3 linked regions of the Homo sapiens genome follow. The protein of the gene in region 1 purifies or fractionates together with the protein of each later gene. This does not show direct contact. Each region holds a gene or a part of one and is shown on either strand. Other genes may lie near its edges. The genes, in order: KCNH2, RNF139 and SMAD5.

What was found.
Region 2: the proteins of KCNH2 (region 1) and RNF139 purify together in Homo sapiens (affinity purification with western blotting, with the first as the bait; one study listed by BioGRID). This does not show direct contact.
Region 3: the proteins of KCNH2 (region 1) and SMAD5 purify together in Homo sapiens (affinity purification with mass spectrometry; one large-scale study listed by BioGRID and IntAct). This does not show direct contact.

What each region holds. Positions count from the first base shown.
Region 1 is NC_000007.14:150,944,307-150,947,321, reverse strand, and holds the end of KCNH2 (voltage-gated inwardly rectifying potassium channel KCNH2), read left to right. Parts: intron 1-267; coding exon 268-445; intron 446-1,807; coding exon 1,808-1,957; 3' UTR 1,958-2,361; downstream 2,362-3,015.
Region 2 is NC_000008.11:124,477,843-124,481,496, forward strand, and holds part of RNF139 (E3 ubiquitin-protein ligase RNF139), read left to right. Parts: intron 1-3,654. UniProt on the Homo sapiens protein: E3-ubiquitin ligase; acts as a negative regulator of cell proliferation through mechanisms involving G2/M arrest and cell death.
Region 3 is NC_000005.10:136,139,319-136,142,972, forward strand, and holds part of SMAD5 (mothers against decapentaplegic homolog 5), read left to right. Parts: intron 1-3,654. UniProt on the Homo sapiens protein: Transcriptional regulator that plays a role in various cellular processes including embryonic development, cell differentiation, angiogenesis and tissue homeostasis.

The sequences.
Region 1 (3,015 bases):
GAGTGCAGGTGGGGTGGGGGGGCACGCCCTGGAGTCTGGTCCAGGTCCTGGCGGTGTTGTCTGGTAGAGGGAGAGGGCCTGTCTGTGTGTGCAGCAGCTGGATCCCCTTCTTCCATTCCTAGCCCAGCTGGGGGCTGCCACACCTCTAGCGCGGAGGGCCTGGGTTGACAGGCTGCCCCTCCCCCCTCCCCTTCCCCTTCCCCACTCCCGGTGGAGGCTGTCACTGGTGTCCCCACTTCTCTGAGCATCCCCCACTTCCTGCCCCAGGCTGGAGACCCGGCTGAGTGCAGACATGGCCACTGTCCTGCAGCTGCTACAGAGGCAGATGACGCTGGTCCCGCCCGCCTACAGTGCTGTGACCACCCCGGGGCCTGGCCCCACTTCCACATCCCCGCTGTTGCCCGTCAGCCCCCTCCCCACCCTCACCTTGGACTCGCTTTCTCAGGTAAGCTCCAGCCCTGCTTCCTCGATGTACCGTGACCCGCTTGTTCCCCGATTCCAGCCCAAACCTGCTTTGCTGCCTTTCTGCTGGGCTCTGTGGCCCAGCCTCCCTGAACCTTGTTCCTGCCCTCCTCCCACCCCTGTCCTCCTGGAGGAAGGCTGCTTCAGGAGCTGCAGGCTCAGGGTAGGGCAGGAGAGTCCCCCGTCCAAAGCCCCTAGACAGCTGGGTGCAGGGAACCTGTAGGCTAAGTGGCCCGCAGCTTCACTCCCCTAGTGTCCACAGCCTCCACCGCCAGGCCCCGGAGCATCGCCTGAAGAGCCAGCTCCAACGGTGGTGCCTGTCTCACGGCCACGGGTGGTCTCCAAGAACTGACTGAGCCCGAGACGTGGCGGTGGAGGCTGCATACCAGAGTATCTAGGGACAGGGTCCCGGGTCCCTTCTGTGAGTGACACTCCCTGGTCTCACCGTCCTGCCCATCCTTGCCCTTGGCAGTGGCTGTCACAGGGTCATCTTGAGGGTGCTTGGCATTTCCCAGGGTGCAGAGGCCAAGCCTCCAGGGGAGGACTTCCTGGGCCTGCTTTGCCCCCTCTGCTAGAGATGGGCCTTAGTTGCCCCTTGTCCTCTCCTGGGTGGACCTGCATGTTCCTGGCCTCTGCAGGATGGCGGTGTCTGTGTCAACCTCCGCGTCCATGGTGGGGACTCCTCTGGCTGCCAGAGGCGGCCTGGGATCTGCTCCCTCCCCACTTCCCTTGGCATCCGCTCCCCCCTCCCATATGCTGCCTGCTCCTGTTTGCAGACACGAGGGCCCACGTCAGCAAATGTGCCAGTCTCCCTTCGCAGCCGCCCCCGCAGAGCTCTCACCAGCAGACGCTCAGTACCCACAAACCCCTCCCGCCTGCCCCGGCCCTCTCCCTGGCCTTCAGATGCCTGGCCGCCAGCCTGCCTCTGTTTCTAGGTCCCCGAGTTCTTTCTGGATTGCGGGAAGGAATCTTGTCTCTTTTTCTGTCCCAGCTTCTGTCCCAACACAGAGACTGCTTGTTCCAGGTTGGGTTGGGCTCAGCGGCCACATTCCCTCGGGAAGAGACAGGGGCCTAGGGTTTTCCCTGCTCCCAGCTCTCTTGTTTGGCTCCTGCTCTCAGAGAATGCCTTTCTCTACTTCCCACCTTGGTGCCTCCCCTTGGTGGCCCCTGTCCTGCTCTCGCTGCCTTGGCTCTTGTCCCCTCCAGCTTCTCTGCCCACCTGACTCTCCTCTTGGCCCTCCTGTCCTCCCGTCCATCCTCTGTCCCCGGGTTCTCCTGCCCCTTTCCCTCCCCTTCCTCCTCCTCCATGGCCTCTTCGCCTGCCCATGCTCTGTGTGTATTGCAGGTTTCCCAGTTCATGGCGTGTGAGGAGCTGCCCCCGGGGGCCCCAGAGCTTCCCCAAGAAGGCCCCACACGACGCCTCTCCCTACCGGGCCAGCTGGGGGCCCTCACCTCCCAGCCCCTGCACAGACACGGCTCGGACCCGGGCAGTTAGTGGGGCTGCCCAGTGTGGACACGTGGCTCACCCAGGGATCAAGGCGCTGCTGGGCCGCTCCCCTTGGAGGCCCTGCTCAGGAGGCCCTGACCGTGGAAGGGGAGAGGAACTCGAAAGCACAGCTCCTCCCCCAGCCCTTGGGACCATCTTCTCCTGCAGTCCCCTGGGCCCCAGTGAGAGGGGCAGGGGCAGGGCCGGCAGTAGGTGGGGCCTGTGGTCCCCCCACTGCCCTGAGGGCATTAGCTGGTCTAACTGCCCGGAGGCACCCGGCCCTGGGCCTTAGGCACCTCAAGGACTTTTCTGCTATTTACTGCTCTTATTGTTAAGGATAATAATTAAGGATCATATGAATAATTAATGAAGATGCTGATGACTATGAATAATAAATAATTATCCTGAGGAGACTCCAGTGGTGCTGGGAGGGTGTAACTGTTACTTGCTGTGTCCTGTGTTCCTGTCTGGACATGCATAGGTGTGCCTGCACAGGAATCCGGGTCTGTCTGCATGCCCAGGCCCACAGGGCTGCCCCTGTATCCAGGTCTGGGTGTGTGCAGTGGGGGTGCTCCCTGGGGGCTGACACAGGTCATCTCCAGGGAGACAGAATCTTGTCTCTGTAGGGCCCTGGATTCAAGATAACAAAAAACCCCCTGAACCACATGCATTTAGAGGCAGTCCTGATGGGACACTGACCTGGTGTCTAGCCCCTGAGGGCCATGTGCCTCTGCTGGGTGGGGCACCCTGGCTCCCACAGCTTGGCTTCACACTGACTGTGGAAGCAGCCCTGCACTTGTCTCCCTCACCCAGTTCCTGAGCCTGCGTTGACCCTAACCTGAAATTGGTCTGAGTCCTGGCTCCCCCTGCCACCCACAACTTAGCCTTATCTTATCCAATACAATTGGGCCCCGGACACACTGGTGACTCCAGCCCTGACCAGAGCTCACCTGGTGTCTGGCTGCAGATGGACCTCACTTGTATCACCTTGGTCCCCTGTGATCCTGGATCTCAAGAGGAGCTTCCTGAAGAGGGTGCAACCTTCAGGGTGACTCATTCCCATGACC
Region 2 (3,654 bases), on another chromosome or scaffold:
CATTGAGGTGGGAAAAGGCTTTAAACATAACAGAAGACCCAGAAGTTCCAAGGAAAAATCTGAAAAATTTCAGTACATAAAAATAAAAAGCTTTTTTATGGCAAAGCTTAAAAAAGAATCCTTAAATGACAAACTGAGATAAAATACTTCTATCATAAGTGATTCACGTTCCAGTAAGAGTTTTACCCTGCCAGGGAAGCTGAGGCAGGAGAATCGCTTGAACCAGGGAGTTGCAGGTTGCAGTGAGCCGAGATCGCTCCACTGCACTCCAGCCTGGGGATAGAGTGAGACTCTGTCTAAAAAAAAAAACAAAACAAAACAAGAAAAAACTTATACTCCCTTAGGAAAATGCCTAAGACAAGCAATTCACAATAAACAAAATGCAGATGTTCAATAAGCAAGAGAAAAAGTATTTAGCCCTTCCTGCAGTAGCTTGATTTTATGGGGGAAAAAAAAAAGTACCTAGCCTTGTTTATAATTAAATACTGTCAAGACCGCTTACGGTGGCTCACGCCTATAATCCCAGCACTTTGGGAGGCTGAGGCAGGCAGATTGCTTGAGGCCAGGAGTTTGACACCAGCTTGGCCAAATGGCACAACCCGTGTCTACCAAAAAATTAGCCGGGTGCAGTGACTCCTGCCCATAGTCCCAGCTACTGTGGAGGCTGAGGCACGAGAATCTCTCGAATCGGGGAGGTGGAGGTTGCAGTGAGCCAAGATCGCGCCACTGCACTCCAGCCTGGGCGATAGAGCGAGACTGTCTCAAAAAAAAAAAAAAAGTCAAAAAAAATTTATCAGATTGGTGAAGAGTTCAAAGTTTTATTAGTTTTGCAAAGGTATTTACCTTTTTGAAATAGGTAAATTTATACAATTTTGGAAGACTTTTTTTTTTTTTTGAGACGGAGTTTGCTCTTGTTGCCCAGGCCGGAGTGCAATGGCGTGATCTCGGCTCACCACAACTTCCACCTCCCAGGTTCGGGCGATTCTCCGGCCTCAGCCTCCCGAGTAGCTAGGATGATTACAGGCAAGCGCCACCACCCCCGGCAAATTTTTTTCTATTTTTAGTAGAGACAGGTTTTCTCCATGTTGGTCAGGCTGTTCTCCAACTCCCGACCTCAGGTGATCTGCCCACATCGTCCTCCCAGAGTGCTGGGATTACAGGCGTGAGCCACCGTGCCTGGCCCGGAAGACTCTTAATTTCAGTGTAAAACCATTTGGCAGTATCAACTGTCATTTACAACTGACTTCTCAGTGTTTTGTTTTGTTTTTGAGACAGTCTCACTCTGTCACCAAGGCTGGAGTGCAGTGGCGTGATCTCAGCACACTGCAACCTCCACCTCCCAGGTTCAAGCGATTCTCCTGCCTCAGCCTCCCAAGTAGCTGGGATGCCTGGCTCGTACAACTTTTGACTCACAATTTCAATTCTAGGGAATTGGCCTAGAGAGATAGTTTGCTTAAGGACTATGGGCAAGCATTACTGGAAATAACAAAGCAACAAACTTAATCTAAATATGTATTGATACAAATCTGTTCATTGTATTAGGTCTAGCCATGCAATAAAGTTCTTGAAAGAAATGAGATAGCTATTTTTGGTGCCGAAAAAGACTTCAGAAAACCTCTGAAGTGAAAAAACAAAGCCGAAGTAATTATCACTGGCAGAGGAATAGACAGAGATTTCTCAACAGTGGCAGTATTGACATTTTGGACAGGATAATTCTTTGTTTGCGGATGGGAGCTCTCCTGTGCACTGTAAGATTTTTAGCAGCATCACTATCCCCTGCCCATTAGATGCCAGTAGCACCTTGCACCCCCACACCCCAGTGTGACAGCCAAAACTGTCCCTGGATATTGCCAAATCATGGTTGAGAACCATTGGGATAGACAAATAGATTAGTACTTAGCCTTATTTATAATTACATAGCCCAGAAACAGACACCAATGTATATATAGAAATAATGTGTTTCAGAGATAGAATTGAAGTACATTGAGGTAAATATGGACTGTTGAATTAATGATCATTTTGTTACACCTTTGGAAATAAATTATACTAGATGTCTACCTTATGTCAATATATAGACAGTCACTTCTAGGTTGAGCAGTGTAGTGAGACCCTGTCTCTGCAAAAATAAATATTTAAAATAATAGCCATACTTGGTGGTGGGTGCCTGTAGTCCTATCTTACTCAGGAGGCTGGGGTGAGAAGATCGCTTGGGCCTAGGAGTTCAAGGCTGCAAGTGAGCTATGATTGCATAACTGCACTCCAGCCTGGCTGGGTGACAGAGCAAGACCCTGTCTCTTAAAAAAAAAAAATAGTCATTTCTAAGTGTATTCTTACCTAGATGTATATGTAAATATGAAATGCAGAACTTTAAATTTTTAGAAAAAAATATGGAATATTTTATTTTTCCAATCTTAGATTAAGGAAGAAATCCTTAAAAATATATAAAAGCAAATACATAATGAAGATTGATAAACCGAATGATATTGAGGTTAAAAACCTATGTTAATCAAAAGATCGCACCACTGCACTCCAGCCTGGGCAACAGAGCGAGACTCCATCACTAAAAAAAAAAAAAAAAAAAAAAGGAAGTCAAATCTTGGGTAAGGGGGAACTACTGTACTTACATTTACCCATTTATTATAAAGGCAATTACAAAGGACACAGATGAATTAACCCGATGGAAGGAGATGTACAAGGTGAGACAAAGAAGGAGAGAAGAGGAGAAGGGGCGTGGAGCTTCAGTGTTCAGCTATCTGAGAGCTCACAGAACTCAGTCCTTTTGGGCTTCTATGGAAGTTCATTAAATAGGCAAGATTGATTAGATCACTAGTCATTGGTTTATGGACTCAAGTTTCAGCTTCTTTCTTCCCAGAAGTGGCGGCTGGGGGTAGGAATCAAAGTTATAACCCTTAATCACTGGGCTGATTCCCCTGGCTACCTAGCCCCCATCCTGAAGCTATCTAGGGGCCCCCAGGCACCAGTCATCTGATTATTGTACAAAACAGTCATCACTCCAGAGATTCCAAGGATTTTAGAAGCTATGTCAGAAAATGGGACAAAGACCAAATATTAATATTTTTTTTATGATATCACAGATGGGAAAGACAAACTAGAAAAACTTGCTTTAACTCTTCATTTAACACCTCTCTGTAGGGTTTGGCTTTTTAAAATCCATGTTCATATATTTTTGATAAAAGCATACTTATTATAAGTTTAGTTTAAAAGCAAAAGTTTAATTTTGTGTTAATACTTAGAATACCAGGTTTTTTTTCAACCTAAAATGAGAATCCAATAGAAATGTTTTCTTTATAATTTATCAAGTATACCAACAGATTAACAACATTTCAAGACACTTTGTTGTAAACTTCATTGCGGAAGGCTCCCTTGGGAGTAAGGTAGTAGTAACATTTATTTCTGTGCTTTTCCATATTTATTCTGTCAGGTATTGAAATGTTTTTCCACAGGTTGCTTTTTGTTTTAGAGGTATTTCGGGTACTTGGAGAATTGTAAATATTATGTTTTGTACCCTGATTTTTAGTCATAAGTTTCCAAAAGAGGGTAAGGGTATGAATAGACTTTACACATAAAAGAGTGAAACACTTTGTTATGTAACATGTATAGTAAGTTTTTATTTTTTCTTTTGTTTTTATTTGC
Region 3 (3,654 bases), on another chromosome or scaffold:
AATAGAAGCTTTGTGAAGCTTAGCAACATTTTATTCATATGGTTAATGTGTATAAAACTTAACCCTGAATCTTCCTTTAGCTTTCTTATCTGCATTTGCCAAATCAGTTGATGTCAAACCCCATTCTTCCAGTTGTCCAGGCTGATACCTTGGAATCATTGTTAACTCCTTTGTTCTCATACACCCCATGATCTCCTTCATCAGGAAGCTTACTGTCTTTCATATGTCTGCTGCTCACCACCCCACTGCTATCACCCTGGTTGTAAGCCATCGTCATCTTCTCCCCTCCCTTAGATTACTGCATCTCTGAACTGGTCTCGCTGCTTTTATCATTGCTGTCCACCCCTCCTCCTGCTTATTCTCAACATACCAGCCAGGATTTATTTATTTATTTTGAGACGGAGTCTTGTGCTGTCACCCAGGCTGGAGTGCAGTGGCATGATCTTGGCTCACTGCTACCTTGACCTCTTGGGCTCAAGTGATCCTCCCACCTCAGCCTCCTAAGTAGATGGGATCACAGGCATGTGCCACTGCACCTGGCTAATTTTTTAATTAAAAACAATTTTTTTTTGTAGAGATGGAGTTTTAAAAACTATGTTGCCCAGGCTAGGCTTGAACCGCTGAGCTCAAGTGATTCTCCTGCCTTGGCCTTCCAAAGTACTGGGATTACAGGCATGAGCCACCACGCCTGGCCCAGGATAACTCTTTTTTTTTTTTTTTTTGAGATGAAGTCTAGCTTTGTTGGCCAGGCTAGAGTGCAGTGGTATGATCTTGGCTCACTGCAACCTCTGCCTCCCGGGCTCAAGCAATTCTCCTTCCTCAGCCTCCCAAGTAGCTGGAATTACAGGCACATGCCACCACACCCAGCTAATTTTTGTATTTTTCGTAGAGACGGGGTTTCACCATGTTCGCCAGGCTGGTCTTGAACTCCTGACCTCAGGTAATTTGCCCACCTCGGCCCAGGATAATTCTTTAATAGTGTAAGTCGAGAACTATCATGTCTGTGCTCAGAGCTCTCCACTGAGTTCACAGTTTCCTTAGAGTACTGTAAAAGCTAAAGCCTTTATATCCAGCATGGCCATTCTGGCTCTCTGGTATCTCTTTGACCCCACTCCTTACCTTTTCCCCCTCGTACACTGTGTTCTCAGGCTATACTGGTCTTCTAGCCAGTATATGCTCTTCATGCCAGAAGCATGCCAGACATGCTCCTACCTTAGGATCTTTGCATTGCCTGTTGCCTTTACCTGTAATGGTTTTCCCCTAGATATATGCCTGTTGGCTCACTCTTTTATTTCCTTAACATTTTAACTCAGTTGGCACCTTCTTGGTGAGACCCAGCCCAGCCACCCTGTTTAAAATTACACCTCTCTTCCAGGACTTCTTGTCCACCTTCCCCTGTTTTAATTTTTCTCTATAGCACTTTTCACCTAACAAACATATCATTTACTATATCTCGTTGGCCTCCTTCTGCTGGAATATAAGCTAAATGAAGACAAGTGTTTTGGTTCCTTTTATTCACTTCTATATTCCCAGCTCCTAAAATGCTATCTTAATAAATATTCTTTTGGATGAATGACTTGAATGAATTTGACAAGTTATTGTAATGTATGTGGTACTGTTTTTTAAAGATTATATTCTAGTGCGAGAGACAGAAATAAAGTAAATGAACAAATTATTATGAATCAGTTAATACAGTGAAGAAAATGAACATAGTATTGGATTAGAGATTAGGGAAACTCTATATAGGATTATGGGGTGATCAGGGAAGGTATCTGGGATGAGAGCTAAAGCTGAGACTTAAATAACGATAGAGCTAAAAATTAGTGGCCAGGGATTAAGAAAAGTGGTATAAGCAGAAAATGGCATTTGTAATATCTGAGGTTCAAAAGACATTCCAGTATAGGAAGATAAATGCTTTTGAAGAATGAGTTCTTACTAATATTTATTGGGAGCAGGAATAATGCTTCTGGAGTTTGATTTCATTGTTTTGAGGAGCAACAGCTCATTTGTAGTAACAGGACACACTGTGAAAAGTGCTAGATACCTGGATTACATGCCCTTTCTCTGTCTCTCTGTGTTCCTCTAGTAACTTGAGTTTATCTCATTGTACTTACATATAGGGGTATAGTTTGGTGTCTGTCGTGCTACGTTATTCTGTGAAGGGAGATTCTGTCCCGTTTGCATTTTTGCTATTCCCACTCTTCACTCATATAGTACCTTTGTATGGGACTTAGAAAAAGGCCTTCTCATTTATTCCTTCACCCTTGGCTAGTGCTGATAAACCCCTGCATGTCCTACAATGTCTGCTAGTTAGTAGGTGCTCAATAAGTGTTTAATGATTCATGGCTGTTATAGCTGCTGAGTCAGTTAATGCACATATACTTAAAGAAGTAGGTGTACCTTATGATAATCATTTCTGTATTTCTGTTGATTAACCTAGAGTACTATAGTTATGGAAGTATTTGTACCTAGTTTCTGATTTGATTTTTCTTAGTTTCAACCTCCAAATTTGTATAACCCCAAGTATATTAGAGAGAATTGTTTTGAAGCAGGAATGACTCATGATAATGTAAATCCTCTCTTTAGTAAGGGTTCATAATATGGCTGAGGTATAGCTGCACTTTAATTTTGAAACCTGTTTTTCCTCTGACTCTTCAAGAAATATGTTTATTTTAAAAAATATAGAATTAGATGAAGCAGAAAGTGAAAAGTACACCTAACCCCACCACCAGAGCTAATATCACAAACCCTTTCTTTCATTAAACAAATATTTATTGAGCATATGTATCACTAGGCTTACAGTGATGAGTGAAAACAGATACAGCTCTTCTCGTGGAATTTACATTCTTGTGGGGACAGATTTGAAAGGTAAATGTAAAAACATAGGTGTGGTAAGTGCTACAAAGTAGGAGTATGTGATGCGGTAAGCATATAAGAGGGGGACTTCTAGCCAGGACGGTTTGGGAAGACTTCCCCGAAGAAGGGATGCTTGAGCTGAAAGAGAGGTGAGGTGTGTGTGTGTTTTGTAATGTGATAGATTCATTTGTAATTCATGATATACCGTAATTTTATAAGGTTTTCATTTATGGCTGAGGTACCACTGCATCTCTTTTGGTACACTAATGACGTTCTGTGTTCAGTCAGTGGTTGCAGTTTTTCAGAAGAATCAGGGAACCTCACGTACACAGGAATTTCTAAATATTATGATTACCTTGGTTTTCTTTCTAGCTTTGAGGTCATTTCTCTAAGAAATGACAAAATACATCAATAAAAGGGTATTATCAAGTCAAGTCTTCATAAACCAAAGGTATACTATGAAAGGCCAAGATAATAGCAGATAATGGGTTCATAGCTGTTAAGTCCCTCCAGTTTCTAGTGTAAGAAGGAGCATACCTTCCTGTCTGTTCAATTATTGGCTCTCTGTGCTTGGTGTACATTTTTTTAAACTCAATTTTAATGCCCTATTTCTGTTGGCTATCATATGGAAATAAATATAGGATAAAACTAAGTGATAGGCTAAATGGCATATGAAACTCTTTATAGCCCCTGTTCTTTTTTCCATTACTCTCTAAGATCTTACAGAGATTATGGTTAGTGTCTTTTAAGCCTGAGTTCCTAGCATGGAGTATTCCTGACATACACTAGTGGGCACCC